Homo sapiens: one gene and its partner. The protein of the gene in region 1 interacts with the protein of each later gene in a pairwise test. Each region holds a gene or a part of one and is shown in the gene's direction. Other genes may lie near its edges.

Evidence for each region.
Region 2: the proteins of RAP1GDS1 (region 1) and DIRAS2 interact in binary tests that used the Homo sapiens proteins (3 or more experiments, as listed by UniProt).

What each region holds. Positions count from the first base shown.
Region 1 is NC_000004.12:98,418,294-98,422,044, forward strand, and holds part of RAP1GDS1 (rap1 GTPase-GDP dissociation stimulator 1), read left to right. Parts: intron 1-363; coding exon 364-498; intron 499-1,725; coding exon 1,726-1,851; intron 1,852-2,961; coding exon 2,962-3,101; intron 3,102-3,751. UniProt on the Homo sapiens protein: Acts as a GEF (guanine nucleotide exchange factor) for the Rho family of small GTP-binding proteins (G proteins) that stimulates the dissociation of GDP to enable subsequent binding of GTP.
Region 2 is NC_000009.12:90,640,987-90,644,737, reverse strand, and holds the start of DIRAS2 (GTP-binding protein Di-Ras2), read left to right. Parts: upstream 1-1,913; 5' UTR 1,914-1,986; intron 1,987-3,751.

The sequences.
Region 1 (3,751 bases):
GATAGCAAAAGGTAGAGTACTATCACTGTAACATTGGGAGAACACAAGCATACATCACAATAAATGAAAAATATTGGACATTCTAACCATGTGTTTCTACTTCTGATATATTATCTGGCTCTAAACTAAAGATTTTTCTGGTAATTTTCTGATTTTAAAACTTTTATCTAGTTTAAGAATTTTTTTTAACACTTCTCACTCAGTAAACAGAAAAACCTATAAATCTGATGGGAGAAAGATTTGGAATTCATTTTATTGTATAGCTCCATTTTCCCTAATGTAGATAATAGCCAGACATCAGTATTATAAAGTATTTATAGATATTTTAAAGAGGAAGAAAAAGATGTGTGTTTTTTTTTTCAGATGCAAATTGTATTCATATGGTAGACAATGGGATTGTAGAAAAACTTATGGATTTACTGGACAGACATGTAGAAGATGGAAATGTAACAGTACAGCATGCAGCACTAAGTGCCCTCAGAAACCTGGCCATTCCAGGTAAGACTTAAGAATAGAAGGCAGCTGTGTACAAAATAAAATCCATCATTTGGGGAAGCTATTAACTGTATGTGATTTGTGAACCTGCTCTGATGAAGAAAATTTAAAAAAAAATAGTCTTCACATTGTTCACATTTTTTCATGCTAATAAATGGAGATCATATGTTAAATAAGTTTTGTGAGACTGTACAAGAATAATCTTTGCCTTCATTCAGATATCCTGTTACCTTTTGCGAACTGTTAGATTTTCATCATGTTTTATAGTTAAGCTTTTTTAAGTTTGAGATGGGGTCTCACTCTGTCAGCCAGGCTAGAGTGCAGTGACGCAGTCCTGGCTCACCACAGCCTCTACCTTCTGAGCTCAAGTTATCCTCCCACCTCAGCCTCCTGAGGAACAGGGACTACAGGCATGTGCCACCATGCCCAGCTGATTTTTTTTTTTTGTAGAAACAGGATCTCACTATGTTGCCTAGGCTGGTCTTGAACTCCTGGGCTCAAGCAGTCCACCCACCTTTGCCTCCTAAAGTGCTGGGATTACAGGTGAGAGCTACTGCACCAGGCCTTAGGCATCTTTAGTTGAGGTAGAATAATGACATCAATTAACAGAGTCCACTCAAGAATGACTTTCAGTTGTTGTTTTTCTATAAGCAGATGTACAATTTTTTTAAAATAGCCTTAATGTGCCTTTGGAAGTCATGAAATCACTGTATTATGGAAAATACAACAAAAGATAGTTAAAACTATTCTTTTATCCTACTTTCTAAAAATAAATTTCTGATTAGATGAAATAGTACAATTACATGATGATCCAATCCATTTGAATTCATTTGGTTTACATAGGATAGTAACATTTATTAATGTCTATAACATTTATATTAACACAGTTGGATCAAAAACGGAATTGTGCTTTTTGTTGTAAGAGGGTAACATTTTCAGATTTCCTTTACAAACTATGTAAGTAAGTGTTTTGGATTGGATCTAAAAAGCCATGATACTGTCATAAAAATTATTATATTGTCTGTTATCCGCTTATACACAAATAGGATACGGACACACACATAAACAACTGAATTCCATTCTTAAAATTGACAAAAAAGTGACAAGATTGTTTCTAAATGGAAAAATAAAACATGGATCTTAAAGATACTTAATAAACCTGTATTGAATTGAATGTTTATCAACAGGAATGCTAATACCATTTTAACCATAGTCTCTCTTTTTCTCCAGTTATAAATAAAGCAAAGATGTTATCAGCTGGGGTCACAGAGGCAGTTTTGAAATTTCTTAAATCTGAAATGCCTCCTGTTCAGTTCAAACTTCTGGGAACATTAAGAATGTTAATAGATGCACAAGGTAAAAGAAATGTTTTCCCCAACTTGCATTTTTCATATGATAGTCTTAATGTGCCTCTAGTTGAAAAAGGACTTGTTTTTAGCTTTTAGGATTATGTAATCATAAAAAATAGCAAATAAAAGATTTAAAAGTTGGTTTTGGAACTCCATTTGTTAATTTTTATGCTTGTTATAATTATTTATTTATACATATTATTTATTTATTTATTTATTTATTTATTTGTTTATTTATTTATTTTTGAGACAGAGTCTTGTTCTGTCACCCAGGCTGGAGTGCAGTGGTGCGACCTCAGCTCACCGCAACTTCCGCCTCCTGGGTTCAAGCAATTTTCCTGCCTCAGCCTCCTGAGTAGCTAGGATTACAGGCATGCTCCACAACTCCTGGCTAATTGTTTTGGAATTTCACTAGACATGGGGCTTGTTGCTCAGGCTGCTCTTGAACTCCTGGCCTCAAGCGATCCACCCACTTCAGCCTCCCAAAGTGCTGGGATTACAGGTGTGAGCCACCATGTCCAGCCTATAATTGACTTTAAATAGAAATTATACCATATCTCTCCTTATTAGTACTTATAGTCCTGGTTTTAGGTTGCTTTATTCATCAGTTTCGGCAGGGGGTGTTGTGTTTTGGCATTCTATACCCATTTTTACCTTGGCTTTGAAATCAAATTTCATTATTGTGACAGTCAAAAATTTTTTAAATTTGTCTTCCAGACAGGGAGAGCATTTTTCTGTTTGCAGAAACAGCAGTCAGAACCACTCCTAGGAATGAATTATGTTTATTTACTTATTTCTAAATTTTAAACCCTTTTCTATATTGATTGCATAGAGTCTTTCTAAGAACCCTGCATTATAGTCCGCCAGAGCACTAACAGACTAGCAGGCTTAACCAAAAGAGTATGAAGTCATTTGTTGTTGTATTTTCTATAAAATTTCACAGTGTTACAGAAGAAGGCAAATAGCCCATCACATAAGGAATATTTGCAGTTCTAGCTTTAATGAAATTGTCGTGCTGTGTTTTTTTAGACGTCCTTCACACTCTCAAATCTGTACGAATTATTTCAACTGATTGTCTGTTAGTGATTCATTCCTTGGTTTGCCTTCTTTCCTATAGCAGAAGCTGCTGAACAATTGGGAAAGAATGTTAAGTTAGTGGAGCGTTTGGTGGAATGGTGTGAAGCCAAAGATCATGCTGGTGTGATGGGGGAGTCAAACAGACTGCTGTCTGCCCTTATACGACACAGTAAATCAAAAGTAAGTTCCAGAGGAAACTGTTCACTAGAAAACTTCAGAGTGTCTTTTTCAGAAACCCAGCATTGTAGGTCCTAACAACTGGGATAATATTTACCTGAAAGTATTGTGAAGATTCAGTGAGATCATGTATATAATGTGCTTAGCTGATACATGGGATATAGGAAACACTCGGTAAATGGGGGTTGCTGTTGTTGCTGCTGCTATTGTTGTTATTACTTTTACCACCACCGTTATCAGCATCAGTGTCAAACATTCTTTGTGCCAGGCATTGACCATGCAGCCTACTGATATTTAGAAATTAAATGGTACCTAGATAGTATATGATGTCCAGAGCTCACAGAGTTAGAAAAAAATCCATTCTTGTGGCTGGCTGTGCCGCTGTCTGGCACATGGTAGATAACCAATAAATGAACAAATGAGCTATTTTAAAGATCACAATAGTGAGTACCCAGGCCAGCAGTTCAGCAGCTGATTTAGTATCTAGATTATATGATTTTTAAATTTTTTAAATACTGTTTTCTTGTTGGGCGTGGTGGCTGACACCTGTAATCCCAGCACTTTGGGAGACTGAGGTGGGCAGATCATGAGGTCAGGAGATCAAGACCATCCTGGATAACATAGTGAAACCCCGGGTCTACTAAAAATACAAA
Region 2 (3,751 bases), on another chromosome or scaffold:
TGGACCTTGTTTTAAAATGTATTTATAGCTCCCCTGCTGATTCTAATGTGCAGGCAGATGTCAGGAGCCCCTAGCCTAGAAGCAAATGGGTCAGGCTCTTAGAAGGATGTAAGTTAAGGGGAAGTTAAAAGAGGAATTTGGGAGCAATCTGCTCCTTCTGGCTGATGAAAGTCTAGGGATTGTGGGGAGTGCCAAAGGGGCCAGAGACATCATATTAAGTGAGTTGCTCCTTGTTTAAATGAGGCCTTTGGGCCTCTGCTTCACATTCTCAGAACAAATAATGATGGCATGTGGCAAAAGGCAGGCTTCTTCTGCATTGTGGGATATTCAGCATAGAACTGGCTCTCTTTATCAGCTCCTGATTTGCTCTCCCTGCTTCCATACTAGCACTGGATTTTTGCTTATTTAATCTTTTTACCCTCCTTTGTTTAGTTCTTAAATTCCATTTTGTCATTTAACCTGATAACCTACATTTTGGTTGTCATGGAAAACAACATCCTGACTTATAAAACTGGAAGGTTGTTTCAGGACCCAGAAACTGCATCAGGCAGTGCTCAGAATCCACTGTCATCATATTTGGAGCCTCCTCTGGGATGGGTTTCTGAGTGGCCATATATTCCTTTGCAATGAAGAGGAGACTGTGGAGGACAGGGTGACCACTCTGCTTTTAGACATCATTAGTGTAGGGGCAGGTTTGTTGAAGTAGCCTTAAATGACTTTAGTAAAAAGAGTGTATTTTTATTTTTATATTCCAATGGCTGTAGGATCAAGGCCAGAATTAGGATGAACTGGGGAATAAAATAAGTTTTCTTGACTATAAGTTGTAAAATGCGTAGTTTTTAAGTATGATTTTTAAAAAGCATATTTCCTGTGAATAGCAGGGCAGAATTTTACTATGGAAATGAACTTCAAAGGTTAACATGTTTTAATTATTTAGAAAGTGAAGACGGGATTAAAACAGATAAATAGGATTCTACAACAAAAATCAAATGTAAAGAACTACAGAATATTAATTTTGCTCAAGTCTTTTAGCATATTTGGTATTACAAAAGAATGAGTAATATAACCAAGAGAAGAAATCTTCCTTCAGTCTGTAGTTTAAACTTAACATGGATCAATGTTATGCTCAAGCACTTTTAAAAATGCCTGCACAGAATTGTTAGCCATTAATATTTTTTCTTGCTGATTCACCTGTTTTTTAATCAACGCGTCTTTGACAAAATTGTTTATCAATGTCAGGAAATAAACGTGGTCATTTGCTTGAAATGCTAATGTGAAACCACTCAGTGAAAAAGCAATTCTAATCCAAGCTTGCCAATGGCGGTGTTGTCATAGGATCCTATTAAATTAGAATATATTAATCTACACTGTGTGGTTGGCTATGGTATGGGGCAGGGCATTTCGTCTGCCTTTAAATGAGTCGGTTTTTAAAAGTTAAAATCTGGAAATGGAAAAAAAAAGTCTATATGGTTAGTAGCGATTATAGTTCGCAATGCGAACAAAAGAATCTGGTTCCCTTTCAATGGAATTATTTTAATTCATTAAATTATCAGAAAATTCCAGTCCTCGCCATCTATTCCAAGAGCATGCAGTAGGTGGCACCTAAAAGCTCTTTGGAGGCGAACAGGCGCCATTTAAGCAGGAGCAGCAGCCTCTGCAGCAGTTGGCACATCTGAGAAGGCAGAGATTGAAGAGAGTAGGAGGAGCGTGCAGCGGCGGTGACAGTGCCAGGCCGGAGCGGCTCAGGCCAGCGCAGGTGCAGGGGCTGCGAGCGGGTGGAGCGCGAGGGCGCTGGGCGCAGGGAGCACGGCCGGTGGGCGGTGCAGGGCGCACGGCGGGCGAGCAGCTGACAGCATCGTCACGGCGGCGGGAGGGAGTGCGCTGCGCCTGCCTCCGGGAGGAGCCGCATCCACACACCCTGCGCTGCCCTGTCCTGCGCGAGTGGAGCTCTGAAGAAGCTCTGAGCGGAGTTGTGTTCTTCCCCAGGTAACCGATTTCCCCCTTCTGCCGTGGCTTCGCTGCGTCCGCATTGGGGCACGGGCGGCTTTGGCATGATTGTTTGCCAGCCCCTGGAAAGGGATTACCGCTCTCAGGGAGGGCGAGTCAGCGTGTACTGGAGTTGGTAAGAGGGGAAGAAATCTGCATTTCTGTATCCTTGTTAGGGAGGGTGAGCATCATGCTGTCCTTGTCTAAAACATGTTCTTTTTTAAAAATCTGTATCTTACGTATTATTAGGGATTCCTTCCAAAACAGGATTTACCGTTTTGGAAAATTCTACTGTGCAGGTGTTTCTGTTAATGTGGAAGTTTAATGGATTTAGGAAAAGAGTAAGAAGATGTGGTCTAAAGTGAGAAAAAAGCCAAGCACGCTAGGGACTGCCGTTTGGTTCGGCATGCTTTCATCCTCGACTCCTTCACTTCATGCGCTTGGCCGAGACCTGTCTAAATCTTTTGTTTGTCTTCTTAAAGAATGTGTTTCATGATATCTACATGTGCTCCTTTCCGCTTCCTTGTTGTAAGAGCAGAAGATGGGCAAGGGGCTGCATCCAGTCCTTAGTTGTAAGACTGTGGTTTCCCATCAGATGACAATGACTGCTGACAGCTCCCAGGCTCGCCTGAAAAGCAGTGCTGGCTTCTGGCGTTGTGGGAACCTGCCTCTCTCCTTCTCTCTTGAAAAATGCTGTTTTTCCTCTTTAAAACTCCAATTCACATTCTATGTGGGTTTGGGAGACTTTTAAACTAGAAGCTCTGTGAATCATCTGTTACATCCATTGAATGCTGGAATACAACATTGTGGTGGAATTCAGTTTCTTCCTACTGTGCAGAGACACAGCTTGCCTTCCCTAGGAATTTATTTTACATATTTGCCCTCGTTATCTTTTAAATGGATCCCTTCAGATGTGAGAAGCTAGTCCAGCATATCAGAACTTTTCTGCTTCAAACTAAAAATTTTCAAAAATATTATTTTTGAGGAAGATTTTCCAGGTAACGCTAAAAGTCTGGAGCATTTTACATTTCAAATCAGTCACAATGTGCTCCATTTCCAGTGACATTTGGATTTGAGGAGGTGGAGGGGGAGGGAGAGAAAAGGGGAGGATAAAATTAGAATAAATTTAACAAATTTGTAGGGGAATCATACTTTTTTTTCTTCTTGGTTGTTGTCTGAAATTGAAAATTGTCCACAATTTTATCTATCTCTGGAAATGCAGGAGGCTTTGTGGGCTGGGGACAGGAAGACACATAGTTCATTTTATAGAAATAAAAGATACAGTGGCAAGGAAACATTTTCATCCCATTTAACATATGGCATTTAATTTGGTAATAGTCCCGGGCAAGCACAGGGAAAGGAAGGAGAAAGGAGGGGGTATTGCTGTCTATACCAAGGCACAGAACTGCTGCTCACACTTCAGTGATCCCTGCAGATGGGAAGTATGTGTTCATGGTTATTGTAGAAACCTCCAGAATCTTTCTTTGTTACAGCTTTAATAGAATTGTTCCTAAGAGGCGACTCAGAAAACATACAGATTGAATGCCAAGTTGTGGAAGTCACTTTTCAGCTTGTGTCTAACAACCCAGCATTCTCAGCAAAGCAGTTTCCTCATGAGAAGAGTGGAGGAGACCTTTTTTTTAAAAAAATTATTTATTGTATGTTGTTCGTATCCTATACACCACACATGACTTTTACTGTATTGGAAATGTATTATTTCAGTGGTAAATACTGCATATCTTACTGAAAAATTAAAACCTTTTAA